Linked DNA regions of Homo sapiens. The protein of the gene in region 1 purifies or fractionates together with the protein of each later gene. This does not show direct contact. Each region holds a gene or a part of one and is shown on either strand. Other genes may lie near its edges. The genes, in order: PRDM5, YBX2, ZNF687, CASC3, FBXO11, BAG1 and PGK2.

The links.
Region 2: the proteins of PRDM5 (region 1) and YBX2 purify together in Homo sapiens (affinity purification with mass spectrometry; 2 studies listed by BioGRID and IntAct, with this or other methods). This does not show direct contact.
Region 3: the proteins of PRDM5 (region 1) and ZNF687 purify together in Homo sapiens (affinity purification with mass spectrometry; 2 studies listed by BioGRID and IntAct, with this or other methods). This does not show direct contact.
Region 4: the proteins of PRDM5 (region 1) and CASC3 purify together in Homo sapiens (affinity purification with mass spectrometry; 2 studies listed by BioGRID and IntAct, with this or other methods). This does not show direct contact.
Region 5: the proteins of PRDM5 (region 1) and FBXO11 purify together in Homo sapiens (affinity purification with mass spectrometry; 2 studies listed by BioGRID and IntAct, with this or other methods). This does not show direct contact.
Region 6: the proteins of PRDM5 (region 1) and BAG1 purify together in Homo sapiens (affinity purification with mass spectrometry; 2 studies listed by BioGRID and IntAct, with this or other methods). This does not show direct contact.
Region 7: the proteins of PRDM5 (region 1) and PGK2 purify together in Homo sapiens (affinity purification with mass spectrometry; 2 studies listed by BioGRID and IntAct, with this or other methods). This does not show direct contact.

Annotation. Positions count from the first base shown.
Region 1 is NC_000004.12:120,779,179-120,783,452, forward strand, and holds part of PRDM5 (PR domain zinc finger protein 5), read right to left. Parts: intron 2,126-4,274; coding exon 1,965-2,125; intron 1-1,964. UniProt on the Homo sapiens protein: Sequence-specific DNA-binding transcription factor. Represses transcription at least in part by recruitment of the histone methyltransferase EHMT2/G9A and histone deacetylases such as HDAC1.
Region 2 is NC_000017.11:7,291,579-7,296,464, forward strand, and holds the start of YBX2 (Y-box-binding protein 2), read right to left. Parts: upstream 3,062-4,886; 5' UTR 2,923-3,061; coding exon 2,652-2,922; intron 1,961-2,651; coding exon 1,897-1,960; intron 482-1,896; coding exon 448-481; intron 1-447. UniProt on the Homo sapiens protein: Major constituent of messenger ribonucleoprotein particles (mRNPs). Involved in the regulation of the stability and/or translation of germ cell mRNAs. Binds to Y-box consensus promoter element.
Region 3 is NC_000001.11:151,284,676-151,288,949, reverse strand, and holds part of ZNF687 (zinc finger protein 687), read right to left. Parts: intron 3,745-4,274; exon of another isoform or gene 2,876-3,744; intron 2,676-2,875; coding exon of another isoform or gene 2,659-2,675; coding exon 544-2,658; intron 423-543; coding exon 244-422; intron 1-243. UniProt on the Homo sapiens protein: May be involved in transcriptional regulation.
Region 4 is NC_000017.11:40,157,078-40,161,351, reverse strand, and holds part of CASC3 (protein CASC3), read right to left. Parts: intron 1-4,274. UniProt on the Homo sapiens protein: Required for pre-mRNA splicing as component of the spliceosome. Core component of the splicing-dependent multiprotein exon junction complex (EJC) deposited at splice junctions on mRNAs.
Region 5 is NC_000002.12:47,836,792-47,841,065, reverse strand, and holds part of FBXO11 (F-box only protein 11), read left to right. Parts: intron 1-1,296; coding exon 1,297-1,424; intron 1,425-1,565; coding exon 1,566-1,647; intron 1,648-2,062; coding exon 2,063-2,207; intron 2,208-4,274. UniProt on the Homo sapiens protein: Substrate recognition component of a SCF (SKP1-CUL1-F-box protein) E3 ubiquitin-protein ligase complex which mediates the ubiquitination and subsequent proteasomal degradation of target proteins, such as DTL/CDT2, BCL6, SNAI1 and PRDM1/BLIMP1.
Region 6 is NC_000009.12:33,251,473-33,254,984, reverse strand, and holds the end of BAG1 (BAG family molecular chaperone regulator 1), read left to right. Parts: 3' UTR 1-2,514; downstream 2,515-3,512. UniProt on the Homo sapiens protein: Co-chaperone for HSP70 and HSC70 chaperone proteins. Acts as a nucleotide-exchange factor (NEF) promoting the release of ADP from the HSP70 and HSC70 proteins thereby triggering client/substrate protein release.
Region 7 is NC_000006.12:49,784,945-49,789,295, forward strand, and holds PGK2 (phosphoglycerate kinase 2), read right to left. Parts: upstream 2,342-4,351; 5' UTR 2,244-2,341; coding exon 990-2,243; 3' UTR 716-989; downstream 1-715. UniProt on the Homo sapiens protein: Essential for sperm motility and male fertility. Not required for the completion of spermatogenesis.

The DNA.
Region 1 (4,274 bases):
TTTCACTTAACTCAAAAATATATCTATTATTAGGTTCCAATTTTGGTTAGCTAGTTTCAAAAGACATTAAAGGTATAATACTAAACTACCTTAAATATGAACAAGAAAGCATGGAAACAGCTCACTTTAAGAATACTGAATAAATTTATGAGATTAAAATGAGCAACACACTATGAATATACTGTGTGACTATTATTGCAGACAAAGTAATCTCTCTTGAAAGCTCACTATACTTTTCCTTTATTTATTGAAAGTCAACAAAAAATGTGTTAAATTCATGCAAAAAGTAATTAAAGCAAAGAAAGTTGAAAGACTAGTTTATTCAGAGAGCTAAAAACACCAGATAATATCATTATTACTCAGCATTAAAAATACAGGAACCCATATGCCCTAGATGTGATTATTATACACTGAATACCTGTATCAAAATACAATATCTCAGGCTGGGCACAGTGACTTATGCCTACAATCCCAGAACTTTGGGAACCCAAGGCGGGCACATCATTTGAGGTCAAGAGTTCAAGGCCAGCCTGGCCAGCATGGTGAAACTCCGTCTCTACTAAAAATACAAAAAATTAGCCAGGCGTGGTAGCAGGCACCTATAATCCCAGCTACTTGGGAGTTTGAGGCTCAAGAATTGCTTGAACCCAGGAGGCACAGGTTGTGGAGAGCGGAGAGCCGAGATGGCACCACTGCACTCCAGCCTGGGTGACAGAGTGAGACTCTGACTCAAACAAACAAACAAACAAACAAACAATATATATATATAATATCTCCTGTATATAACTATATCTACTATGTACCCATAAAAATTAAATATTAAAAAAATACAGGAAAAGAAAGTTACTCAATTCAATCCTTTTGAAACAGTTGTATTAAGGACAGATAAGATAGATAGATACTGAAACAGGAGTTATTTCTTCACATTCATTCAGTATCACACACTAATGGCAGAAAACTACCATACTTCATGGTTACTTCTAAAGTTAACACTGCCTGAGTGCAGTGTCTCATGCCTGTAATTCCAGCACTTTCAGAGGAGGATAGCTTGAGCCCAGGAGTTCAAGACCATCCTGGGCAACATAGCAAGACCCTATCTCTACAAAAATTTTAAAAAATTATCTGGGCATGGTGAGACATGACTAGTCTCAGCTACTCGGGAGGTTTCAACAGGAGGATCACTTGAGCCCAGGTGTTCAAGGATACAGTAAGCTATGATGACACCACTGCACTACAGCCTGGGCAACAGAGCGAGACTCTGTCTCCAAAATAAGGAAAAAAGTCAACATTAAAACCTTTAAGTGTATTTGTTACAATACAAATTTTACTATTTAAAATATATACTTTAAAACGCATTATTGAGCACGTAAAAAATAAACTTGATTCCCTTGAGGTAATGACCCAAGTAGCATAAGACACACACAAAAAAATCTCCAAATCACTATATGAACATTTTCTTTGAGTTAAGCAAGTATTTATCGAGTCCCCATTCTGTACCAGAAACTTCCCTATGCTCTAGAGAGGTAAAGATCAAAGCCTATCCCAATAACAAAAGGGTTCAGTCTATTAACTTGCCAATAAACATAAGAATTCACTTTGAAATATAAAATTATTAAAGTACTACTCATATTTCTTAGAAAGAAACAGCCTACATTAATTCAAAAATATATAAAAATTGATAAGCTCCTGCTCATTGAGTACTTTTTAGAAGCCATCTATCAGCAAAGCTATGGGTTATGAAGAGTCTACATCTAACTCAGGTTCTCATTCATGGAAAAAAATAGGTCTATCCTGAAAGATGAAGAAAGTGAACATTGTCTGAAGAGCTGATATAAATCATGCATTTGTCATTTTGAGTAAATATTTTGATAGATTAATATATAATTATCACATGTTAGTTAACATATATACCCATACTGCTTAAACACGTAATCTGTTCAAACTAACAGAAGACTTCCACTTACTTTCTTATGACTTCTAAGCACTGAAGGTGTAACAAAGGCCTTATTACATAGCTCACACCTATACTTCTTGTGTCTTTCATGAACCACCTGGACATGAACATTTAATGTATCCTTCCTCTTAAAGGTAGCATCGCAGTGATGGCACTTGAAAGTCCTCTCACCTTAGAAACAAAGAGAAACATTTAAGAAGCAATAGCAGGGTCCTATTAATTTCCTCCCATGTATGCCAGACTTAGTTGCTTTCTCCAAAATGTTGGCTTTGTAGCTCTAAGAATGTTAACTTTTTATTTTTTACAACAAATTCCAGTTCCATTATTTGCTAATTCACTGTGTGACTAGGCAGAAGTCCTTTCATCTTACATCTTCAGTCTTCTCAACTGGAAAACGTGGGGACTGAATTAGCAGAATTCTCAAAGTTACCATGAACATTTTTTAAAAGTATGTACTTCTACAGCGGGGGCTGGGATTTGAGGTAAATAGACTCCAGTGACACAAGACCTCTGTCAAGCAAGGTGAGTTGCCTTTGGGCCCCTCCCAAAGTTCCCTCAAATCCCACCACGGTCCCTATAACCTCCTGTGAATAGATAATAGGCAGAATTGGATTGTAGGTAGAGAGCTGAGGAGGAAAGCCTCTGAGGGCAGAGGGTGTGCATCAGAGCTCAGGCCCTCCCATTCTGGGAGAGGGAAAGTTACAATGCCCCTGCTTCCTGGACTGGAGGCTCCCTGATTCAGCCCTTGGGCAGTTGGAAAAAGTCTCCAAGGCTTTGAGGGATGGGGTCTTTCAGAGAGGAATTAAATTGGGATAGCAAGACTATTAGCCACCCTGGGTATTTCACTTTCTTCTCATTATCCAGCCTGGGGCTGAGGGGAAAGCAACCTCAGAAAACATATATAGAAATCTTATGGTACTTTCTAACTTTCATATAATGCTATTTTTATAGTTCTTCTTAACACATGGGCCTAAGTTTTAGTGGCCATTTTAAATACAATTTCAGCAATGAATGTGTGCAATGAGAACACGATGTTTAATAACAATACGGTATAAAATGTATGTAGTATGTGACTATATAAATAAGACAGACTAGTATTTGAATATAATTTCCCTTTTTAGAAAACAATCATATTAACATAGATTCCCATATCATATTGATAACAAGGCAAAATTAAGAATAATTAAATTTCTATATCTAAATAAGAGATTATCTCAATTTTAGCCAAGCTCTTCTAAATTCCTTCCATCATAACTAGCACTAAATTTAGAAATATGAAGACTCTATTATTTCTTCACATGAAAGGAAGGAAGAAAGGAAGGAAGGGAGGGAGGGACAAAAAGAAGGAGAAAAGGAAAAGAAAAATTACCTTCTCTTTGTCTTTCTAAATAGAATTATCCCTCTCTAACTTAAAGTCTCTTAGAGTCCTTTTGAAATTTAATGTCTGAAACAAAGTCACGTCCATACAATGCATGAACTATGTGGATTCTGAGAGCTTGGTTTTTTGTGTGTTTTTGTTGCAGAGTATTATTCTTATACACTATCTTTATACTTTCTGTTTTATTTAAACATTCTGTTTGTATAAGTTGTATAATCAGTGATAGCATAAGGAAATATCAATTGATAAAAGACTGTAAACATTAATGTTAATATCAAATCGATTCAGGTACTGAAAGAGATCTTTTTAAAAAAACCTCTAAGATTGTTCCTATCAAAGCATTTTCATTAAACTATCAAGTGAATAAAAATGTTGGTCCCTGTACAAAATCTCATCAAGCTATAGCAAGGAAGTTCTTACCTTCCTTCTTTCATACTTTAATTGCAGATTTCTTTGTGTTAAATTTATCAGATTTTTTCCCTATCTTAGTACCTACAAGCTAGCCAGCAACTTGCCTTTTGGTTTTCAACATATTGGGAAATAGCAACAATTTCCAAAATCATTACAAGTTATTCTTCACATTTTGAGCCAGAAAGCTGATGTAAGTTTCTAACAACAGCTTTCATATTTTAAAGTTAAATAAATGGGTTTTAATTTTCATATTGCATAAGACGTAGTATTTTGTCCTCCCTATTTTAGCCATTTCTGGTTTTCCCATTCTTTTCACTAACTGATATCTAACTTTATTTCCCTAAAATAACTCATTTACTCACTCAGTTATCAAAGTTGATTTTCCTGGCCAAATGTCACGATGCATCTTCATAAAGCCTGTGATTAATGTGCTGATCAACATCATATTAAATACATACTCCACAGCACAGTCTACACATAGTCACTTTAATCCTATTTCTCAAGTGAATGAGAACAAAAAAACTGAAAGCA
Region 2 (4,886 bases), on another chromosome or scaffold:
GTAGCGTGCATCAGAATCACCTGGAGAGCTCGTTAAACCGATTGTGGAGCCCCAGCCCCAGCTCTGATTGATTCACCAGGTCTGGGGTGGGACCTGAGAATTCGGATGTCAGGTGATGCTGCTGCCGCTGGTGCAGGGGCCACGCTTTGAGAACCACTGCACCCAAGGACCTTCTCCCTCTGAAAACTGCCTCAGTGCTTCCTGGAGTGTTAACAGGTCCCGGTGGGTAGTAAGCGTGCCATGCCCAGGGGTAACATGCTCAATTCTGACGGACGTTTAGTAACCCAGCACAAGTGCGGCTAATGGTGGTTGACACAGGCACCCAAGGCGGATGGGCCGTTGTGAAGAAGAGCCAGAGAAACATGGCGGAGCGCACTGCTAAGGATTACAGCAAAGGCCTTCAAAGACGGCCGGTTCTTCCCCTCAGAAAGCTAACCTAGCTCTTACCTGGTGAACAAAGACATCTTCCTTGGTGTCATTCCTGCAGAACAGGATGGGTCGTTAAGGAAGGGACTTCAACAAAGCCCTCAGCTCCTCACTGAGGTCCCCCTAGATGCCCAGTCTAAGCTCAGTGGGCCCATCCTCTCCAGCATTCCAGTTAGGGGTGGACATGGCCTGGGGAATGGGAGGGAGAGCCAGCAGGGCCCCCAGAAGCTGGTGTAAAGAGAGATACACCTAAAACCTCAGTGCCAAACCTGGACTTCACAAGGAAAGGGCAGGCTGGGGAGGCAAAGGCACCTTGAGGAACCTCAGACAGCTCTGCCCCTGCCGGGACTCCACCTTCCACCCCAGGCTAGCCTTACAACCTGCCAGCGCTGGGTGCAACTGTCCCTGGCCAACACCCCCTCCCCCAACCCCCATCAGGGTTGGAAAATTCCAGTCTTCTTCCTTCTATAGTCAAGGAGGCAGAAAGTGCAGATGGGGCCAGAGGGGCAGAACAAGTTTGAGAAGGGAACAATGTGTCAGGAACTTGCTCTAAACAGCTGCCAAACTTTATTCTCATCCTCAGCCTGGAGGTGAATCCCAGAGTCAGGACCACTCTCAACACGCGTGGGACCAAGGGTGAGAGAGAAGAAAACATTCACCCATTCTCTATCATAAGAACCCCAGTGGGTGGGGGGAGGGGAGAAAGGAAAAGTTTTCCTGGAGGCACTCTGCCCCCGACCCAGTCTGCCATTTCCAGAATTAGACAGGGACCCTTCCCCAGAACAAACGTTTTAGCTTTAAAGCACTTGGATCTGCACAAAGGTCAGCCTGCTAAGAGGGAACTAGGGCCTCCCAGGAGAGCCAGGCCGGGCAGGATGCCTGGGCTGGGGAAGGGCCCACTGGGGGAGACCTGGCTCTGCTCAGAATCCACTGCCACAGCCTCTCCCGGTGCTGAGGGGTGGGGCTGCCTACTGAAGGAAAGCAGCAGCCTCTGGCTCCTTCCTCCTGACCCCCACTGTCAGCCTCAGTCCCAACAGGTGGAGGGCTCGAATGAGCCACAGCTCTTTAAGGGAGTTGAGTTGTGAGTGCTGCCATAACAGGAAATCAGTTGAGGATTCCAGCCGGGGGCCCTGAGGCACAGAGAACCCTATAATACATTCTGCCCCAAAGGCATGTCAGAGTAAAAGTAATGAAGCAATTCCAGAAGGTGAGATGAGAAGCTGGCAGGGTCAGAGCCAGGTTTGCCAAGTTCCTGAATCATTAATCCTCCGCTACCCTTGAAGATGCGGAGGAGGCTTCCTCTTGTCACGAAGCACACATTTGTGCTGCGGTTAAAGGCTTTCAACCAGCATCAGCTGGACATTGCAACCATGTGCCTCCGCAGGGGTCGATGAGGTTGGGCGGGTGTCCAGTCCCACAGGCCAGCTGGGAAGACACCCATTCCACCCCCGCCCTGGGTTCCTTGGATACCTGTTGATGAATCCGTAACCATTCCGGACGTTGAACCATTTGACAGTGCCCAGGACTTGGATTGCTGCCAGGCAGAGATGCAGTGGGGACAGTGAGATGGGGGGAAGAGATGGAGTTGAACTCAGTTTTGAGACACTCCAAAACAAAAAAAAATCTAGCCTACTGCCTTATTACCTATTCAGGTTACCTTCAAGCCAACCAGGTTTCACTAGTAGCTTCAAGGTATTCCTACCCTAGTCCACCAAATGAAATCACCCACACAGGGACTCAGGCTTTCAAAAAGCCTTCCAACTCTAAGTCACGTTCCCCACATCCTACAAATCCAGCCCCTTCACCTAGAACTGGGTACTCACCTGGTCTGCAAAGTGCCGCCCCCAGGTCATAACTGAGGGTTTTTCTAGCCCTCCCAATGCAAGGGTCCCCAGTGCACCTGCTTGCCAGGCTCAGAGGTTTGCCTAGTTCTAACCCAGTCAACTAGGCACTGTGTCCCGCCCGGGGGCGTGGCCGGACCCTGGGGCTTTATTCTCCACCCCAAGACCTTAGCTGAACCTGCCGGCCCCGCCCTCTCTCCCAGGAAGGTACGGCAGGATTTCCCACCAGGGGAATCCACTTTGGTGCGCAGCTCCCAGCCCAGTTAGCGCTCTGGGCCTGCGGGCCAGGCCGCCTTTGGTTTTCCGGATCCTGCCGGGCTCCACACTGCCCCTCCCCCAGCCCGCCGACCCCTCAGAGCCGCCCTGTGCGCGCCTGCCCCTCACCCAGCACCGGCTTGTCCGCCTGACTCCGGGCCGGGGGGGCGGGGGTTCCCGAGACCGCCGTCGCCGGATTGCCAGGGGTGCGGGAGCCCGGCGCCGAGGGGGTCCCAGCAGCGGGGCCCGAGGCGGCTCCGCCCCCGCCGCCCGCCCCGCCGCCTTTCTGCGGCTCCCCTGCGGGCACCGGTACCACCACCGCTACCACCCCTGCCGCCGTCGCGGGCACCGTCGCCGCGGGGACCGCTGTAGCCCCCGCTGCCGCCTCCACCTCGCTCATCCCGCCGGGTCCAGTACCGGCCACAGCCGCCACCGCCCCGGCCCCTCCCCCCGGCTCGCGAACCCACCGCCCTGCTCGGTCCTCGCGCCCCGAGCCTCGCCCACACGCCGGCAGCGGGCCCGGAGCCGAGGCCAATGGCAGCCCGCTGCCGCCGCTCGCGCAGACCCCGCCTCCCGACCACGGGCCAATCCCAGCCCAGCAGCACCCCCGGACCGCACGCCGACCCCGCCTCCCGGACTTCGCACCGCGGCCCCGGCCCCCGCCAGCCGCCCAGTAAGTACACCTGGGCCCCGCCCCCTGGCCGCCACGTGACGGCCCCCGGCCCAACCCATTGGCCGGCGGCCCCTTTCCCCTCCCCCCTCCGCCCCTTTCCACCGGCCGCGGGAAATCAAACGGGCCGGTCGCGCCCCAACCGCCACCTGGCCTCTGCGGGAAGGGCGGGGCCGGGGCCGCAGTGCCAAGGTTGCCCCTAACGACCTGAGCGAGGGGCGGGAATCTGCAGCCTCGGTTCTGGCAGTGAGTAGCACCGCTCGCCTCCACCCTCGAGACCGACCTTGCCCGTATGCTGCCAGGTGCAGACGCCTTCCGGCCACCACCGCCCTTGGCACCCTCTCCCCACAGGACGGCCCTGCACACCCTGGGGCTGCGGGATCCAACCGCAGGATAGGCTGGAAAGCGCAGCAGAATGGTTTTCCCGGCTCACACTTGCTCCCATGAGCCAGGACCCCCTACTTTTCTTTTTTCTTTCTTTTTCTTTTCTTTTCTTTTTTTTTTTTTTTTTGAGACAGGGTCTCGCCCTGTCGCCCAGACTAGAGTGCAGTGGCGCGATCTCGGCTCGCTACAACCTCCGCCTCCCTGGTTCAAGCGATTCTCCTGCCTTGAGCCACCTCAAGGTGGCTCCCGGCCTGCCCCTACCTATGTTTGTATTGGAAACAAGGTTTACAAGTAGTACAATGCGCAATTCTTCTTCGCTGAGTTTGTTTGTTTGTTTGTTTTGACACAAGGTCTCCCTCTGTCGCCCGGGCTGGAGCGCAGTGCGCGATCTGGGCTCACTGCAGCCTCTGCCTCCCGGGTTCAAGCGATTCTCCCTCCTCAGCCTCCTGAGTACCTGGAATTACAGGCTTGCGCCACCACAACCTGGCTAATTTCTGTATTTTTAGTAGAGATGGGGTTTCACCATATTGGCCAGGCTGGTCTCGAACTCCTGACCTCTGGTGATCCGCCCGCCTCAGCCTCCCAAAGTGTTGGGATGACAGGGTAAGCCACCGTGCCCGGCCTTCGCTGAGTTTTGATCAATGTGTCCACCCATGTGGCCCATACCGACCGCTGCAGCTCTGATGTCTACCGCCCTAGACTGGCTTTGGGGTCTCTCACGTCTGTATGCCGGGGGCTGTGGTCTCCGGCCAGGCGTCAAGCTCCAGCGGACTCGAGGCCTTTTGCACATGCGGTTTCCTCTGCCGAAAACGCGCCTTCGTGTCTCCAGGTGGCTCTCTCCAAGCAGCAGCTTACGTGCCACTCTTCGCCATCACACCATTCCTTATTTTTCTAATGGCATTTTTGAAAATATGACATGATCCTGACCATTTGCTTATTTTATTTCCCTGCACACAGTGGGCTGTAAACTCCACAGCAGTAAGAGCCTTGTAGTTAAGCTGGACGCCTGCAGCAGTGCCTGGTACAACGTACACGTTCAATATTTATCGAATACATGAACGGCCCCCATTCCACAGATGAGAGGACTGAGGGGCAGTGCGAGGCTTGTACCAGGTTTCTCGGGAGCCTGGGAAGATTAAGAAAATGGGCCGGGCGCGGTGGCTCACGCCTGTAATCCCAGAAAAACGAGGCTCCAGCAGTATCTCCTCCCTAGGGCCGCCTCCCCCACCAGGGAGGACGCGGGTGCGCGTTGTATTTTTAGCCAGGGCAGCGCGCCCCGGGGCAGCACACGTGCCCCCAGGCGCTGCTGG
Region 3 (4,274 bases), on another chromosome or scaffold:
TGCAGAGGCTGTGCCCCAAGGGAGGCTGCCAAGGGAGAGCTGGAGCTCCAGAGGTGGCCCTGCTTCCCCCCATCTCCATGGGGGACGACGGGAAGGCAGGACGTACTATCTCAGGGTTGAGTCTGGCAAAACAACAGGGCTGAGGGATATAGCAGGGAAGATAGGGGATCTTGAAAGGCCATCTGAGGCTGAGGCTAGGACACACGAAACCCTACAGTTCTATGGAGGAAGGGTCCGAGGCACCTGTATCCTACACGGCGAGAGACGTGCAGACAGGCCTCCCGGAGATGGGTCTGAAAATTGGCTTGCAGGAAGTTGCCCCCACACTCAGGACAGACATGGGGGGGTCGATTCTTATGCATGCGCTGGTGGGCGCTGAAGCTGCAGCGATTGGGGAGCATCATGGGGCAGGTTGGGCACACCTGTCGAGTGGGTTAAACAAGGAAAGTCGGTGAGGAGTGTCCTGTCTCCATTACTTCTAACCAAGCCCCCAACGCCTTCCTAGATCCTGTCCCCACAGAAGGGCTGTGAAAGGTGACTCACATTGCTGGTGGCCCCAGGGGCAGGGGGGCCGAGCTGCTGGAAGTGAGCTGCCATGCCAGCCTTGTCCCGGCACTGTTCCTTGCACTCCAGGCAGCGAAAGCATGTGTAAGCAGAGGTGGCCGGGGCAGCAGGCGGCTCTGTGGAGAGCGGCAGGACAGGGGCCTCAGCAGCAACTGTAGTAATGGCAGAGGAGGTGATGGCCCCCTCACCCTTGCCCAAGGCAGGCAAGGCCAGAGGTCCAGAGACAGGTGGGACAGCTACAGGCAGCAGCGGTGTGATGTCCGGCTGCCCCACCATCTGGTCAAGGGCTACAGGCCTCATGACCAAATGTGAGCACTGCATGACGAGCCCCTTGTCCTTGTGTTCACGTGCATGCAGGAGCAGGCTGCACTTGTTGAAGAAGACCAGGCGGCGGGCGCAGTGGTTGCAGGTGACCTCGATGCGCATGCTCCGACGGTCATAGTGCCGTGCCAGGCTCTTCTCCAATGAGAAGGCATCCCCACACTCCAGGCAGCGGTAGCCGGTGGGAGGCAGGGCCAGCCCAGCCTCAGCTGGTGGGCTCAGGTTTGGCCTATAGGCAGGGAGCAGGTTCTTGCTGTTGAGGATCTTGTTGAAGGCCTCCACCAGGCTGGACTGGGTCCGTGATATCACTGTGCCGCCCCCTGTACTTGGCCCAGTAGCTGTCTTTGAAGGTTGCACCATCACCACCGAGGCACCATTCACCTTCTGTCCCCCAGTCCCCAGCCCTGCCCGCCCGTCAGCCTTAGGCAGGGCTTGGGGCACCAGGCCTAGCACGTTCTTAGCAATCATCTTAGGGCTGGTGGCAGTCCCCCCAGGCAGCACCACAGCCTTGCGAGCCACACTGGCTGCCATCAGCATGGCAGTACTGGCGTTCTGGATGGTGGCCACAGGCAGCACAGTGCCTTTCAGCCTTGTACCATCACCCAACTGTACGCTCACCACCTTTGGACCCTCAGAAGTAGGTGTTGCAGGGGACAGCTTCAAGAGGCTAGCCTCAGCCAAGAAGGCCCCCTCAGCCAAGGGGGCAGGTGGATCAGGATCTGAGGGGACCTGAGTTACAGTCCTTGTGATATTCCCGCAGGATGTTTTAATGGTCTTGATCCGCACCTTAAGAGGCCTAGAGGAGCTGGAGGCAGGGGAGTCATTGCTGTCCTCATCTGCAGCCTCGGCCCCACTAGAGGGACTCTGGGGACTTCCTGGGGAAGACTTGTCCACTGGCCCCTCATCATCATCTTCTTCCTTCAAGGGCTGACAGACGGGCACTTTGGGGGAGGCAAGAGGGCTCTGGTGCCCTGGAGACTGCTTGAAGAAGGGCACCCCAGCAACTGGGGGAGGCGAGGCACTGGCAGGGATGTCCGTGGCCTTAGGGCTGGAGCCTGAGCCTTGTTGGGCTAGGACCTGGGGATGATGGGGGCTGCAGCTCTCCTGCTTCAAGGCCCCCAATGGTGGGGAAGAAACAGGTGGCTGCATGCCTGGGCCATTCTCCTGGGCCAGCTCAAAGGAAGAGGGGAAAGGAGGCGGGGTCAGAGCCCCCTCCCGAGTGGGAGAGGGTGCAGAGGGAGGCAGCGGATCTGAGTGGTCCCCTGGCTCAGGGCCAAAATGAGCAAACAGGTCCAAGGGAGTTTTGCCTTCCATGCCTTTTTCTTTCCAGGTGCCCCCACTGGGAGGAGCAGGAGAGTGGGGAGTTCCTGGGAGGGAAGGTTCAGGGCTCCCAAAACCATTCTGCATTCGATGAGGCCCCACAGGCCCTTCTTTAGTTACCCCAGCAGCCTGGGCCCCGTCTCCTGCTGAGCCTCCAGCCAGGGCCTCAGACTGCTCGGGACACACAGTGTTCTTGACAATGACACTGACTACAGAAATGTCTGGCGGTGGCAGGCCATGGTCAGAGGCCTGGGCTGGAACTCCAGGGCCATCCCCAGCAGAGGCTGCTGCTGTGTCTTCAGATTCACTTCCTACACCTGGTTCTGGCTTCCCTGGGCCTCCAGGCCCCTCATTTTCTTCTGGCCCAGAATGGATGGCTTCATTCGCATCAATGTCAGGGATGTCAAAGGCAGCAAGGAGGTCATCAAAATCAGGGGTCTTCATATCCCCCATATCGGCAGATCCCAGACCTGATGAAAACAGGAACGAGGAGGAGAAACTGAGATGTCTAGAAGAGAGATCCTGGAGCTCTTCCCTCAGCATCTCCATATTTATCCTCTCTCAGAACCCACATACACTCCAACTTAGGTACACCTCCGCCACGGCATGAATCCTACAGAGCTGCTAGGTTTGCCAAACCTTAAAATCAGAAGAGGATTAGTGTCCATACCTTGGTGGGCTCCAAAATCCAGAGAAAGCAGGGGAAAAGAGAGTTCTTAGAAATACAGGGAAGGGGCCAGGTGCGGTGGCTCATGCTTGTAATCCCAGCGTTTTGGGAGGCTGAGGCAGATGGATCACTTGAGGTCAGGAGTTTGAGACCAGCTTGGCCAACATGGTGAAACCTTGTCTCTACTAAAAATACAAAAAACTAGACAGGTGTGGTGGCACATGCCTGTAATCGCAGCTACAAAGGAGGCTGAGGCAGGAGAATCGCCTGAACCCATGAGGTTGAGGTTTCAATGAGCCAAGATCACGCCACTGCACTCCAGCCTGGACAGAGCGAGACCCTGTCTCAAAAAAAAGAAATATAGGGGGCTGGGCATGGTGGCTCACGCCTGTAATCCCAGCACTTGGGGAGGCAGAGGCGGGCGGATCACGAGGTCAGGAGATCAAGACCATCCTGGCCAAGATAGTGAAACCCCGTCTCTACTAAAAATACAAAAATTAGCTGGGCATGGCAGCACACACCTGTAGTCCCAGCTACTCGGGAGGCTGAGGCAGAAGAATTGCTTGAACCTGGGAGGTGGAGTTTGCAGTGAGCTGAGATCGTGCCACTGCACTCCCACCTGGGCGACAGAGCAAGACTGTCTCAGAAAAAAAAAAAAAATACAGGGAACAGGGAAGGGTAATAGAGCTCAGTGAGCATTCTGGTGGAAACCATCTCATCCCCTCCGGTCCCCAGCATAGAACCAAATAATCAATACTATTATTAAGGAGGATGATGTACATGATGTTCTAGGTTTAAGGACTCATTCATGTCCGCATGGAATCAATTCATATTCTTCACGGATCTTCTGGGGTCCACACAGATCTGAAAGGCTGCATGTACAAAGGGACAATGCCATAAGCCAAGACTTAAGAAATGATCCTCGTTCAGCTTTATCAGGGGCGTGCAGTACAAGCAAGTTTCTTCAGTGCCTTACTTTTGCTGTTTGAAAGAGGACACAAATGGCCGGGTGTGGTGGCTCACATCTGTAATCCCAGCACTTTGGGAGGCCAATCACTTGGGCCCAGGAGTTCAAGACCACCCTGGGCAACATGGTGAAACTCCCCAGGCATGATGGCACGTGCCTGTAGTCCCAGCTATGCCTCCCAGCTGACATGGGAGGATCCCCTGAGCCCGGGAGGTCGAGGCTGTGATGGGCCATGATCATGCCACTGCACTCCAGCCTGGGTGACAGAGTGATACCGTCTCAAAAAAAAAAAAAAAAAAAAAAAAAAAGACAAGACAAGGCAGAGAGCACAAGTGATCTATGTATCATAGGGTTATTCTGAGCATAATACAAAATTGCTAATGTAAGAATCCCACCAAGAATACGATTTACTATTCCAGATGAACCAAGCAAGGA
Region 4 (4,274 bases), on another chromosome or scaffold:
TAGTACAACATAGAACTGAAAAGCAAACAAATCAATATTCTTACCCATATTTCTAGAAAATAAAGATCCTATTTTGGCCTGGCACAGTGGCTCACGCCTGTAATCACATTTTGGGAGGCCAATGCAGGCAGATCACCTGCGGTCAGGAGTGTGAGACCAACCTGGCCAGCATGGCAAAACCCCATCTCTACTAGAAATATAAGAATTAGCCGCACTTGGTGGTAGGCACCTGTAATCCCAGCTGCTCGGGAGGCTGAGGCAGGAAAATCGTTTGAACCAGGGAGGCAGAGCTTGCAGTGAGCAGAGACTGCGCCACTGCACTTCAGCCTGGGCGACAGAGCAAGGCTCTGTCGCAAAAAATAGTAATAATAAAAAAAAGACACTATTTTAAAAATATCACATTAAAAAAAATACACACATACATACATATATATCCACATAGGTATTCCTGGAACATATGCAAGAATTATTAAAAGTGGCAGGCTGGGCGCAGTGGCTTACACCTGTAATCCCAGCACTTTGGGAGGCCGAGGCAGGCGTATCACTTGAGGTCAGGAGTTCGAGACCAGCCTGGCCAACATGGTGAAACTCTGTCTCTACTAAAAATACAAAAATTAGCCGGGAGGCGGAGGTTGCAGTGAGCCAAGTTTGTGCCACTGCACTCCAGCCTGGGTGACAAAAGCAAAACTCCATCTCGAAAAAGCAAAACAAAAAAACAAAAAAACAGCGGCAGCCTCTAATGGGCCCAGAGGATAAGAATGGAAGGGAGACTTACTATACGATACCTAACATATAAGAGGAGCTTAATCTTCCTTGATAATCTCTCTCTCCATGAATTATCTTTTTTTTTTTTTCTGTTTTGAGACAGGGTCTTGCTCTGTTGCCCAGGAGTGCAGTGGCACAATCATGGCTTACTGCAATCTCAATCTCCTGGGCTCAAGTGATCCTCCCACCTCAGCCTCCCAAGTAGCTGCGACTACAGGCACATGCCACCACACCTGGCTGATTTTTTTTTATTTTTAGTAGAGACGAGGTCTCGCTATGTTGCCTAGGCAGTTCTCAAACTGCTGAGCTCAAGCAATCCTCCTCCCTTGGCCTCCCAAAGGGCTGGGATTACAGGCATGAACACTGTACCTGGCCCATGAATTGTCTCTTAAACATGCAGTGCCTAATAACTATACTTTGACGTAAGTTGTGAACTCTCCCATCTCAAAATGGCTTAGAGCAGAAATTCCCAACCTTTTTGATTATGCGGACCCCTTTTTAGGATCTAAAAATTTTCATGGATCCCCATGAGATATTCACTGAGAAAACATACAATGACAAACAACTGCTAGGCTGGATGTAGTGGTTCACGCCTGTAATCCCAACACTCTGGGAGGCCGAGGTAGGTGGATCACTTGAGGTCCGGAGTTTGAGACCAGCCTGGCCAACATGGTGAAACCCTGTCTCTACTAAAAATACAAAAATCAGCCAGACATGGTGGCATGAATTTGTAATCCCAGCTATTTGGGAGGCTGAGGCAAGAGAATTGCTTAAACCCAGGAGGTGGAGGTTGCAGTGAGCCAAGATTGCACCACTGATACTAGTCTGGGCAAAAGAGTGAGACCCTGTCAAAAAAAAAAAAAAAAAAAAAAAAATTCGCCAGGAATGGTGGTGTGCGCCTATAGTCCCAGCAACTTGGGAGGCTGAGGTGTGAGATCATTTCAGCCCAGGAGGTAGAGGTTGCAGTGAGCCATAATTGTGCCACTGCGCTCCAGTCTTAGCAACAGAGAGAGATCCTGTCTCAAAAAAAAAAAAAAAAAAACACACAATGAACTGATGCGTGCGTGCCTGTAGTCCCAGCTACTCAGGAGGCTGAGGCGGGAGAATCACTTTAACCTGGGAGGCAGAGGTTGCAGTGAACCGAGATCGCACCACTGCACTCCAACCTGGACAACAGAGACTGTCTCAAAAACAAACAAAAAACAACAAACTGTTATACATTCAATAACACTTTAAGTTTACATTTTATTAATTTACATATATTCAAAAATAGTAGTACATAAGGGGGGAGATGTATATTTTAGTCTATAGATAATGAGAACTGAATGAGTAGACATGCAACTCTTTTTTGAGACAGGGTCTCACTCTGTCGCCCAGGCTGGAGTGCAGTGGTGTGATCTCAACTGACTATAGCCTTGACTTCCTGGGCTCAAGTAATCCTCCCACCTCAGCCCCCACAAGTAGCTGGGACTACAGATGTACACCACTATGCCCAACTAATTTTTGTATTTTTTGTAGAGACAGAGTTTCACCACATTACCCAGGCTGGTCTGAAACTTCTGAGCTCAAGCGAACCTCCTGCCTCAGCCTCCCAAAGTGCTAGGATTACAGGCATGAGCCACTGCGCCCAACCAGATGTGCAAACTCTTGATAATGACTCCATGATTTCCCAATGCACTTATCCTCAAGCTGGAAAATGGTAGCTTTTTTTAATGCCTATGAGTACTGGTTTTCTGCAGCAGAAAATTCCTGCAGCCAGAACATATCCAGAATCACATAATTACAAAAATTTGACCTAAAAAACCTTAAAGGACAACTTGTACAACCATCACATTTCAGAAATGAAAAAAATTAGTCCAAGTGCTCTCTCTCTCTTTTTACTATCTTCTTCCCTCTTTTACCACATCAAGATTGGGTAACACTGTTCATGACACAGAAAGTGCTGGGTCTACACACAAAGGATCATTAGGCCATTAGAAAGGGCCAGGAAATGGACGTGTGGCTAGTTCTAGGTAGGAAAAGGCAGCAGCTAAGGCTCATGATAAGGGAACTGGCTTTAGAATAGGGTTACTCTCCTCTCCTTGTCCTCCCCAGATTTGGACCTAAGGAGGCAGAGCTATGGCTAGGGAGGCCTACGAGAACACAGAGAAATGGGTTCAAGGAAAGGTGGTCTAGTCTTCATTGGTGGGTTACATCTGAAACCTGGTAGATGTATGTACACTGGTCTCTCACTCACCTACTGGGTCTGATACTTGAACTGAACCAGACTGCCCTGTCACTCAAGACCCAGGCTGGCCCCAATAATCTGGTCAAAGAGGCTCAACATGAGATTCCTGAATTCCTGATTGAGAAACTCTCAAACTCTAAGTTTCTGCCATCTCTTCAAATAGAGCTGAGTCAGCCTGATTGGCCCAGACAAGCCAATTAATCCCTCTTCCTCATTTTTCCCTGCTCAGCATCTGGGTATAGTTGACGCTGGAACAAGGGGTTTGAACTACTCAGGTCCACTTCTACGCAAATTTTTTTTCAATAGAAGTTGCAGCAAGTATGCCTGCCTCTCCTTCCACTGCCTCTGTCACCCAAGGCAGCAAGATCAACCCCTCCTCTTCTGAAGTCTACTCAATGCAAAGATGATGAAGACCTTTATGATGATCCACTTCCACTGAATAGTATGTTTCCTTAATAGTGAATGATTTCTTAATAACATTTTCTTTTCTCTAGCTTCATTGTAAGAGTACAGTACATAATACACATAAAATATAAAATACATATTCACTGACTGTTTATGTTATTGGTATGGCTTCCAGTTGACTTAGTAGTTAAGTTTTGGGTGAGTCAAAAGTTATACTTGGAATTCTTACTGCAACAGGGATAGGTGTCCTTTATATTTTATTTATTATTTATTTATTTTGGAGACAGAGTCTTGCTCTGTCGCCCAGGCTGGAGTGCAATGGCGCGATCTCAGCTCACTGCAACCTCCACCTCCTGGGTTCAAGCAATTCTTATGCCTCAGCCTCCTGAGTAGCAGGGACTACAGGCGTATGCCACCACTCCCAGCTATTTTCGTACTTTTAGTAGAGATAAGGTTTCACCATGTTGCCCAGGCTGGTCTCAAAGTCCTGAGCTCAGGCAAGCCGCCCACCTCGGCCTCCTGAGGTGCTGGGATTACAGGCATGAGGCACCACGCCCAGCCCCTTTTAATTAATTAATTAATTAATTTATTTATTTATTTATTTATTTATTTGAGACGGAGTCTCGCTGTTGTCCAGGCTGGAATGTAGTGGTGCAATCTCAGCTCACTGCAAACTCTGCCTCCCAGGTTCACGCCATTCTCCTGCCTCAGCCTCCCGAGTAGCTGGGACTACACGCACCCGCCACCAAACCTGGCTAATTTTTTGTATTTTTAGTAGAGACGGGGTTTCACCATGTTAGCCAGGATGGTCTCGATCTCCTGACCTCGTGATCCACCCGCCTCGGCCTCCCAAAGTGCTGGGATTACAGGCGTGAGC
Region 5 (4,274 bases), on another chromosome or scaffold:
CTACCACACCAGGCTAATTTTTTGTAGTTTTAGTAGAGATGGGGTTTCACTGTGTTTTCCAGGATGGTCTCGATCTCCTGACCTCGTGATCCGCCCACCTTGGCCTCCCAAAGTGCTGGGATTACAGGCTTGAGCCACTGTGTTATTTACAAGTTTTCAACATGATGGGTTGGTTTCCACTAGCATCTTTCAAATAATCTTTTTTTTTTTTTAATTTTTAAAGTATTATTATGAACTCATAGATGGATGGATTGACTGACTGATTTTGAGACAGGGTCTTGCTCTGTCACCCAGGCTGGAGTGCAGATGTGTGATCATAGCTCACTGCAGCCGTGCTCTGTTGAAAGCACTTTGGAGGCCAAGGTGGGAGGATTGCTAGAACCCAGGAGTCTGAGACCAGCCTGGGCAATATAGTGAGACCCCATCTCACCAAAAAAAATTGTTTTTTAGTTAGCTGGGTGGTGGTGCATGCCTGTAGCCCCAGCTGCTTGGGATACTGAGGCAGGAGGATTGCTTGAGGCCAAGAGGTTGAGGCTGCAGTGAGCTGTGATCGGGCCACTGCACTCCAGCCTGGGTGACAGAATGAGACCCTATCTCCAAAAAAAAAAAAAAAAGATGTTCATACACCAGACTACCCTCTGACACCCTTTTTAACCTACCTGGTATCTCATGCACTATATTGAGCCGTTCCTCTTCATAGACACACTCCTTGCCAAGCTGCCTTCACCATATATGGTCTCTAACCATGTAGTACCAGTTCCCTTCCCACTCCTCTCAGCAAGTGGATATCCTCCTCACCTTTTTTTAAAAAAAAGTCTTCCACGGCTGGGCGTGGTGGCTCACGCCTGTAATCCCAGCACTTTGGGAGGCCGAGGTGAGTGGATCACGAGGTCAGGAGATCAAGACCATCCTGGCTACCACGATGAAACCCCATCTTTACTAAAAATACAAAAAATTAGCTGGGCGTGGTGGCGGGCGCCTGTAGTCCCAGCTACTCGGGAGGCTGAGGCAGGAGAAAGGCGTGAACCCAGGAGGCGGAGCTTGCAGTGAGCCGAGATTGCGCCACTGCACTCCAGCCTGGGCGACAGAGCGAGACTCTGTCTCAAAAAAAAAAAAAATCTTCCACATTTTATAGAAATCTAACATTTCTTTCATATAGCTATCCAGTTGGTTGGAATTTCATATAAAACTTACATCTGCTCCCTCCCGAATTTGAAGTTTTAAGAAAGTTTTCTGTATCCATAGAACTTTTTTTAAAAAGGGTATAATTTTTCTTATTGCTTTTGTTTATAACAGATGATGATGTGCCTGCAGATATGGTTGCAGAAGAATCAGGTCCTGGTGCACAAAATAGTCCATACCAACTTCGTAGAAAAACTCTTTTGCCGAAAAGAACAGCGTGTCCCACAAAGAACAGTATGGAGGTAACTTTAACTGTAGTTGCTTTTCTTTTTGTAATGAAAGAATTTTCAAGAAACAAAAAAGGGAATGTCATCCTTTTTTAGAAGTAATGATTATGGATGATAAGAATATTTGCTTTACTAGTTTCTGTTTTGTTTTTGAAGGGCGCCTCAACTTCAACTACAGAAAACTTTGGTCATCGTGCAAAACGTGCAAGAGTGTCTGGAAAATCACAAGATCTATCAGGTATTTCCTGTGGGAAAGTAACAAATAGGGTAAAATAATTTTTTTTAATTTTGCTTGATACCAAAAAATGAAAATTAAGTGTATTCGAGTATTACCTTTGGGATTCAGAAAGTGATTATTACAGAATAAACTTTAGAACCCTGACCTCTCCCTCTGACTTTTATTGTTGTATAAAAATGCTTTTTATGTATTTATTTTAACCATTTCTGAGATGGCACATAATACCTAAAAGAAGGAGTACTTTTGTTAGTTCAGGATAGAGATAAATATGTGTTACCCATGAAACCCACATGCTTATAAAATGACCATTATCCAAAAAAAAAAAGCTATTCATTAGATAAAATGAAAACTGTGTTCTTTAAATAATGAGAAAGTTATTGCTCGAATGATAGTTTATATGTTAATCTCTTTATAGCAGCACCTGCTGAACAGTATCTTCAGGAGAAACTGCCAGATGAAGTGGTTCTAAAAATCTTCTCTTACTTGCTGGAACAGGATCTTTGTAGAGCAGCTTGTGTATGTAAACGCTTCAGTGAACTTGCTAATGATCCAATTTTGTGGTAAGTAAAAACCTATTCCTTATTAACTTGAGATATGTTATTTGTTGCCCAAAATGCTAAACATGGTAGGAAAGTCGGTGCGGTGAGTTGGTAGTTACAATTAGTTGGAACAAAATTAAAATGCTTATCAATTCCAAGTTACAAATGGGGGCTGTCAGTCCAGGTGGTATTTATAAATCAGTAAATGAAGTCTTTTATCTGCTGTTTATCAGTTAATAGCAACTGATTGATTATGGGAAATGTTTTTCTTTTAGTAGCTTTTTAGAAACATAACAGTGTAATTTAAAATAGCTAATGAATTTTAAATCTGATAGATTAGAATGTAGGTTTTATATATCACTTTTGGAAAACAGTTGTATTCATGAATCTTTAAATAATTCATGCCCTTTGACCCAGTAATTACTGGGTCATGCCCTTTGACCCAGTAATTCTACTTCTGAAAAGTTTTTTTTGCTTTATGTACAGATTTTTCGTAACAGCCTAGTTAATAATGAGAAAAATTATAAATAATCTAAATATCCAGAATTAAGGGAATGAACTACATAAACTGTGTAATGTGTACTTGGAGAGTTGTGATATAACCACTAATAGTAATTTTTACAAAGAGATTTTCATTTGTTTTTTGAGAGACAGGGTCTTGCTCTGTCACCCAGGCTGGAGTGCAGTGTCACGCTCCTAGCTCACTGCAGCCTCAACCCTCTGGGCTCAAGCCATTCTCCCACCTCAGCCTCCTGAGTAGCTGGCACCACAGGCATGTGTCACCATGCCCAGCTAATTTTTTTTTTTTTTTTTTTTTTGAGACAAAGGGTCTCACTCTGTTACTCAGTCTGATCTTGAACTCCTGGGGTCAAGTGATCCTTCTACCTCGGCCGCCCAAAGTGCTGGGATTATAGGCATGAGCCATTGCACCCAGCCCAGGTTTTTAATAAGATGAAAAAAATGCTGTTATAAAAAGTGAAAAGAGGCCAGGTGTGGTGGCTCCTGCCTGTGGTCCCAGCTACTCCGGAGGCTGAGGCAGGAGGATCATTTGAGCCCAGGAAGTCAAGGCTGCAGAAAGCCGTGATCGTGCCACTGCACTGCAGCCTGGGCGGCAGACGGAGACCCTGTTTTTTAAAGAAAAGAACAGAGTACAAAATTGTATATGCTATATAATCACAACTATAATAAATGATCTGTAGATAAAATGAGTGGAAGCAAATATGGCAGACTGTTAATAGTTAATATATTGAAACTATAGTTCTTTACACTTCTTTGTTTTACAACGGTTATATGTATTACTTTTATGATGCACAAAAGGTGCACCATATATATATATGTTTTTGTTGTTGTTTTTGACGGAGTTTCGTTCTTGTTGCCCAGGCTAGAGTGCAGTGGCACAATCTTGACTCACTGCAACCTCTGCCTCCCGGGTTCAAGCAATTCTCCTGCCTCAGCCTCCTGAGTAGCTGGGATTACAGGCACCTCCCACCATGCCCAGCTATTTTTTGTATTTTTAGTAGAGACAGGGTTTCACCATGTTGGCTAGGCTGGTCTTGAACTCCTGACCTCAGGTGATCCTCCTGCCTGGGCCTCCCAAAGTGCTGGGATTACAGGCATGGGCCACTGTGCCCGGCCCACACCTTACATTTAAGAGAAAAATTACAAAGGAGAAATGAGAATGAAGAGCAGCAGAACAAAACAGCATTGCTCACTGTACCAGAAATGATAATAGTTAGCCATTACTCCAGTTTGAAGATTTCATTGTGCTTGATAGGATATAAATGGACTGAAGATATAGGACAAATTAAGTTCAAAGTATTTTTACTGAAAATTATCTTTTTAGGCTAGGCGAAGTGGCTCACGCCTATAATCCCAGCACTTTGGGAGGCTGAAGTGGGCAGATTACTTGAGCCCAGGAGTTTGAGACCAGCCTGGGCAACATACTGGGACCTCATTTCTACAAAAAAAAATCAAAAAATAAGACAAGAGGATCACTTGAACCTGGGAGGTTAAGGCTGCAATGAGCCATGATCACGCCTCTGCACTCCAGTGTGGGCAACGGGAGTGAGACTCTGTCTCAAAAAGAAA
Region 6 (3,512 bases), on another chromosome or scaffold:
TCTGGAGAGGGCCACCTCTGCCCAAATTTTCCCAGCTGTTTGGACCTCTGGGTGCTTTCTTTGGGCTGGTGAGAGCTCTAATTTGCCTTGGGCCAGTTTCAGGTTTATAGGCCCCCTCAGTCTTCAGATACATGAGGGCTTCTTTGCTCTTGTGATCGTGTAGTCCCATAGCTGTAAAACCAGAATCACCAGGAGGTTGCACCTAGTCAGGAATATTGGGAATGGCCTAGAACAAGGTGTTTGGCACATAAGTAGACCACTTATCCCTCATTGTGACCTAATTCCAGAGCATCTGGCTGGGTTGTTGGGTTCTAGACTTTGTCCTCACCTCCCAGTGACCCTGACTAGCCACAGGCCATGAGATACCAGGGGGCCGTTCCTTGGATGGAGCCTGTGGTTGATGCAAGGCTTCCTTGTCCCCAAGCAAGTCTTCAGAAGGTTAGAACCCAGTGTTGACTGAGTCTGTGCTTGAAACCAGGCCAGAGCCATGGATTAGGAAGGGCAAAGAGAAGGCACCAGAATGAGTAAAGCAGGCAGGTGGTGAAGCCAACCATAAACTTCTCAGGAGTGACATGTGCTTCCTTCAAAGGCATTTTTGTTAACCATATCCTTCTGAGTTCTATGTTTCCTTCACAGCTGTTCTATCCATTTTGTGGACTGTCCCCCACCCCCACCCCATCATTGTTTTTAAAAAATTAAGGCCTGGCGCAGCAGCTCATGCCTATAATCCCAGCACTTTGGGAGGCTGAGGCGGGCGGATCACTTGAGGCCAGGAGTTTGAGACCAGCCCAGGCAACATAGCAAAACCCCATTCTGCTTTAAAAAAAAAAAAAAAAAAAATTAGCTTGGCGTAGTGGCATGTGCCTATAATCCCAGCTACTGGGGAGGCTGAGGCACAAGAATCATTTGAACCTGGGAGGTAGAGGTTGCTGTGAGCCGAGATTACGCCCCTGCACTCCAGCCTGGGTCACAGAGTGAGACTCCATCTCAGAAAAAAAAAAAATTGAGTCAGGTGCAGTAGCTCCTTCCTGTAGTCCCAGCTACTTGGGAGGCTGAGGCTAGAGGATCACTTGAGCCCAGGAGTTTGAGTCTAGTCTGGGCAACATAGCAAGACCCCATCTCTAAAATTTAAGTAAGTAAAAGTAGATAAATAAAAAGAAAAAAAAACTGTTTATGTGCTCATCATAAAGTAGAAGAGTGGTTTGCTTTTTTTTTTTTTTTTGGATTAATGAGGAAATCATTCTGTGGCTCTAGTCATAATTTATGCTTAATAACATTGATAGTAGCCCTTTGCGCTATAACTCTACCTAAAGACTCACATCATTTGGCAGAGAGAGAGTCGTTGAAGTCCCAGGAATTCAGGACTGGGCAGGTTAAGACCTCAGACAAGGTAGTAGAGGTAGACTTGTGGACAAGGCTCGGGTCCCAGCCCACCGCACCCCAACTTTAATCAGAGTGGTTCACTATTGATCTATTTTTGTGTGATAGCTGTGTGGCGTGGGCCACAACATTTAATGAGAAGTTACTGTGCACCAAACTGCCGAACACCATTCTAAACTATTCATATATATTAGTCATTTAATTCTTACATAACTTGAGAGGTAGACAGATATCCTTATTTTAGAGATGAGGAAACCAAGAGAACTTAGGTCATTAGCGCAAGGTTGTAGAGTAAGCGGCAAAGCCAAGACACAAAGCTGGGTGGTTTGGTTTCAGAGCCAGTGCTTTTCCCCTCTACTGTACTGCCTCTCAACCAACACAGGGTTGCACAGGCCCATTCTCTGATTTTTTTCCTCTTGTCCTCTGCCTCTCCCTCTAGCTCCCACTTCCTCTCTGCTCTAGTTCATTTTCTTTAGAGCAGCCCGAGTGATCATGAAGTGCAAATCTTGCCATGTCAGTCCCCTGCTTAGAACCCTCCAATGGCTCACTTTCTCTTTAGGCAAAAGTCTTTACCCCATGCCTTCTCCCATCTCATCTCAACCCCCTCATTTGTTGGCTGTCTGCTGTCAGCCACTCTTCTTTCAGGTCCTCAGATGCACTGCACCCTCTCCTGCCTGGGGGTCTTTGCTCCTGCTACTACCTCTGCTTGAACAGCTCCTCACCTTCCTTCCTCCAACCCTACCCTTGTATAGGTGACTTTTGTTCATCCTTCAGAATTCAACTCACATGTCTCTTGCATGGAGAACCCTCACCTACTGTGTTGAGACCCTGTCCAGCCCCCAGGTGGGATCCTCTCTCGACTTCCCATACATTTCTTTCACAGCATTTACATAGTCCATGATAGTTTACTTGTGGGATTATTTGGTTAATCTTTGCCTTTAACACCAGGGTTCCTTGGGTGAAGGAGCTTCTTTATCTTGGTAACAGCATTATTTCAAGCATAACTTGTAATATAGTTATATTACATATATAACATATATATATATAACATAACATATATAACATATATAACAAGCATAACTTGTTATATAGTCTTGTATATAGTAAGACCTCAATAAATATTTGGAGAACAAATGAATGTTGAATGCACACATCAATAGTGAAACTTCTATAGCTGCATTTGGCCTCAGAATCTCCGTCAGCATTGGAATTTACAGCCTTAACAGCCTTTATTGTCTTAAGGGTTGAGAAAAGAGGCCCTAATGCATGGACTGCTGGGCAGATGTGATAGGTGATTGCACAGGCCCCACCCACGCAGATCTGCTCACCCAAGGGGTTTCTGCCTGTGAAACTCTTCTCCCGTGAGAAGGGGAGAGAGCACCCCTTCTTCTCCCGTGAGAAGGGGAGAGAGCACCCCTTCTTCTCCCGTGAGAAGGGGAGAGAGCACCCCTTCTTCTCCCGTGAGAAGGGGAGAGAGCACCCCTTCTTCTCCCGTGAGAAGGGGAGAGAGCACCCCTTCTTCTCCCGTGAGAAGGGGAGAGAGCACCCCTTCTTCTCCCGTGAGAAGGGGAGAGAGCACCCCTTCTTCTCCCGTGAGAAGGGGAGAGAGCACCCCTTCTTCTCCCGTGAGAAGGGGAGAGAGCACCCCTTCTTCTCCCGTGAGAAGGGGAGAGAGCACCCCTTCTTCTCCCGTGAGAAGGGGAGAGAGCACCCCTTCTCAGGTGCCCACTTGCCTGGGACATGGTAAGTCTTACCACAGGGAGAACAGATGGGAATGTGTGCTCCCACAAACGAATTCTTCGGCCTCAGGGCTGGAAGGATTCTCCCACATTGTTTTTTGTTTTTGTTTTTTTTTGAGATGGGTTCTTGCTCTCTTGCCCAGGCTAGAGTGCAGTGGCTTGATCTCTGCTCACTGCAACCTCCACCTCCTGGGCTCAAGCGATCCTCCCACCTCAGCCTCCCGAGTAGCTGGGACCACAGGTGCGTGCCACCATGCCCGGCTAATTTTTTGTGTTTTTGGTAGAGACAGGGTCTTGCCATGTTGGCCAGGCTGGTCTCGAACTCCTGAGCTTAAGCAATCTGTCTGTCTTGGCCTCCCAAAGTGATTGGATTACAGGCGTGGGCCACCATGC
Region 7 (4,351 bases), on another chromosome or scaffold:
TCACAATTGATCTGCGGTTATGGGACATAAGACATTATAGCTGGGAAAGGTTAATCTGCATTTTTACTCTTAATTACTATTCTTGTTAATAGCATTGCCCTAAACTACCTCTGTCTACAGAATAAAGCAAAATATTTTCCAATAAGTGTTTTTGTTTTTTCTACATTTCTTATCATTTTATCTTCTGTTTTCTAATAGAGAATTTTTATCTCTATTTTCCCATTATTAAACCAGCTATGTATATATATTTTATTTATCTCAAAAACCAAGTTTTAGAACTTACCAGTTATATTATCTATTTATTAAATAATGCCTGCCTTAAAAATAAAACAATTACTTATTTACAACTTGGGTTTAACTTGTAGCTCTTTTTCTAGCTGGCATTTGTGTGTAATCTTGTGCATTGATATGCACACAAACATAATTCTTACCTTGAGTTTAATTTCTTTTCTTTTTAAAAATTCCTTGGGTTTAATAAGTGTCTTTCATTTCTCTTTTTTTTGGTCCTATTTAGTATAACATTTCCCCTTAGCAGAACTTTAATGGTACCCATGAGTTCTTTATATGTAATTATTTTTCTCAGTTTATTTGGGCATATTTATTGTTTGTTTGTCAACTTTCATTCCACCCTTTCCCAACAAATTAAGTTTTATCTTTTGGGTTTCAAATTATGAAACAATAGCAAAGTTGGACTAAAATAAAAAGATTCAGTTTCTTCAGCTCACTTTCTTTAATAGGCAACTTAAGAATATGTCCTCCCTAGATAGCACAATGGTGAAGTTCAAATGAGAACTTGAACAGGCAAATGCGTGACCAAACTAAAATGAATTGCTGTGCTGATATTAAGAGTTCCTGATGGCCTGCTGCTTGTCCATTACATAGGTCTTGATCTAGGAGTAGATTTTAACAAAAGTCACATCGAGATGTAAAAGCATTAAGCTGACTTAAGGGCCATGGACAGAAAACAGAAGGAAGTAACACTATATTAACTACATGTTGCTGAGGGCCTCTACTCCAGGAAGGATTTTACCTTCCAGAAGCTCTAGACTGGCACCGCCTCCAGTGCTGACATGGCTGACTTTATCTTCAGTGTTCCATTTGGCACAGCAAGTAGCAGTGTCTCCACCCCCTATAACAGTGATGCAGCCCTTGGAAGTGGCTTTCACAATTTCATCCATGAGGGCTTTGGTTCCCTTAGCAAAGGCATCCCATTCAAATACTCCTAACGGCCCATTCCAAACAATTAGCCTTGCTTGAGCCACAACTTGAGCATGATTCTTGTTGCTCTCAGGACCACAGTCCAAACCCATCCAGCCAGGAGATATGCCAGATGCTACAGTGGCTTTTCCAACCTGAGCGTTCTCGTCAAACTTGTCCCCAGTAACAAAATCAACAGGAAAAGTAATCCTTACACCATTCTTTTGTGCTTTGGCCATGATATCTTTAACGATCTTGGCTCCCTCTTCATCAAACAGGGAAGCACCAATCTCCATGTTGTTGAGTACCTTAAGGAAGGTATAAGCCATTCCACCACCAATAATCATCTCATTGACTTTGTCCAGCATATTTTTGATAAGTTGGATCTTGTCTGCCACTTTGGCTCCACCAAGTATAGCCAGAAAGGGTCTCACTGGGTTTTCCAAGGCTTTAGCAAAGTAATCTAGTTCCTTCTTCATCAAGAATCCGGATGCTTTATGGGGCAGATTCACTCCCACCATGGAACTATGAGCGCGGTGTGCAGTGCCAAAAGCATCATTGACATAGACGTCCCCTAGCTTGGAAAGTGATGCTCGGAAGGCTTCTATTTTATCTGGCTCAGCTTTAATCTTCTTTCCAGAGGGATCTTGGCCCTTCCCTTCTTCCTCCACATGAAAGCGCAGGTTCTCCAGCAGGATGACTGAACCAGGAGCTGGGTTGGCACAGGCTTTCTCCACTTCTGCGCCTACACAGTCCTTCAGGAACAGAACATCCTTGCCCAGCAAGGATTTGAGCTCAACAGCAACAGGTGCTAAGGAATATTTGTCAGGCATGGGAACACCATCAGGCCGACCTAGATGACTCATAAGAACTACTGCCTTGGCTCCATTGTCCAGGCAGTACTTGATGCTTGGGATGGAAGCCTTGATCCTCTGGTTGTTTGTAATCTGGTTCTTCTTCATGGGAACATTGAAGTCTACTCTCATGATGACTCGCTTCCCTCTAACATCCAGTTTGTCTAAAGTCAACTTCTTAGAAAGAGACATCTTGACAATATAAAGACATAGGCTGACACCTGGATCTTAATGCTGAAGAACCAACTTGCTGTTGAGGGGCTGGGTCGGTGGTGACTTCTAACGCCTTTGCCCTTGTCCCGCCCCTTTCTTCTCCTCACTGTCTCCAGCACAACGGCCACTGTTAGACTGGAAAGCAAATCTAGCTTTGTGATTGGCTCATGGTCCTGTCAATCTCGATCTGAACTGTGTTGCTAGGTGAAGATTCCAACTTCCTGGGCAGAGGGTCATGTAGTGGAATAGAGCTGTACCTGGCTTCAGGCGAGACTTGGGTAGGTGAAGAAACCCCAGAATAAGAATGGTTCTAAAAAAACAAGAATAGTCCTGAGGTGTGCGCCGCCTTCTGGCTCTTTTTGCCCCCACCCCACAGCTCGGTTAACAGTTGCTTTTATTATTAAAAACAAAACAAAAAGAACTCCACCCCCACCCCCGCAAACCTACATACACCTCATTCATGTCAAATCTTAACCATTTTGATATGTAAAAACCTCTGCAGTGCCAAATAAAAGGAATATTTGAAATAATGATTTTCATATGAAACCTTGCTTATTCAAGTCAGGATAGTATAGTTCTGTTTTTTCCTTGTCTTGATAAATATTTCTTTGAGGATGTGGCTTGTTGTTAGTCTTCATCTTTAGATCTATTCTGGGACGTGGTGGGAATGCTGTCATATTTTCATTACTTTGCTTCTTCCATTTTCAGACTACCATGAAAGAATGTTTGGTCACTTCTGCAGGAGAATCCCATAAGATCATAGCAAAGAGAGTATCAGTAACAAGTGCTGAAAGTAATGGTGACATTTCTTTCAGACTACAATGTTATGATGAGGCTCCTTATTTTTTGTCTCCTCTCTGTTTGCTTTCCTACCTGTACAACTTAGAAATTGAGCTGAAAAATAAATGCATGGTTTTCATGAAGATGAAAACATATATTAGAATTGAAAGTGAGTAAGATATTCTATTTTTGGAGAAAGCAAATGTATGTGGCTAGTTGGTTTAGTAATGAAAATTGGCTTTACAGTTTTTTTCATTCTACTCCATAAGTTGAGTGAACTAAATATGTAAAATGAAGGCTTTGACAGAAATATATTTGAGGCATCTCCTATTAAGATGGCTAAAATAAAAAATAAAAACAAGTGTTGAGAAAGAAGTGGACAAATTGGAATCCTCATTTATTGCTGATAGGAATGTCTAATGGTGCAGCCACTTTAAAAAACAGTTTATCGGTTCCTCAATGTTGAACATCGAGTCAACAGCATTTAAAAGCAAACTTAAATGGTGTTAAAATATATAGTAACAGAAACTCTCATTTGTTGCTCCCAGGAATGAAATATGCTACAGACATTTTGGGAAACAGCTTGGCAATTTCTTAGAAATATGCATAGACTTACCATACAAGTCATCAATCCTATTTCTAGATATTCATCCAAGGACATCAAAAACCTGTATTCTCTCAAACTTCTGTAAACAAACGTTTAGAGCAGTTTTATTAATAATTACCAAAATTGTATATTCTTCAAGTAATAAATAAATAAACTGTGATATATCCATGCAATGGAATATTATTTTTTAAAAAAAGAAAAGAAACAAGCTATTTACTTACACAAAAGCCCTGGATAAAACTTAAATGTGCCTTACTAACTGAAAGACGCCAGGCAAAAAAATTTTGTAGTTATTGTATAATTCCATTTGTATGACATTTGATAAAAGGCAAAACTATAGGGATGGAAAACATATCAGTGGTTGCTACAGGTTAAGAGAGCGTGGTCAACTATAATGGGGATACACAGGAGGATTTTTAGTGTGGTAAACTTTTCTATGAGGTACTGGAGTGGTGGATACAACATTCTATGCACTTGTCAAAATTCATAGAATCGTACGTTGTAGAGAGTAAACTTTAATGAATGCAAATAAAAAATATGATCCAGAGTGTTAGGGAATCGTATTATATAATGTAGCCTCTGACAGATAAGCCTAACTGTATCGTAATATATAGGAAATTTTACTACATGTGATGTGGAAATTTTACTACAGGTGATGTGGACAAAAAAAGGAAATGACTTAAGTAACTTTGCAAAAGAG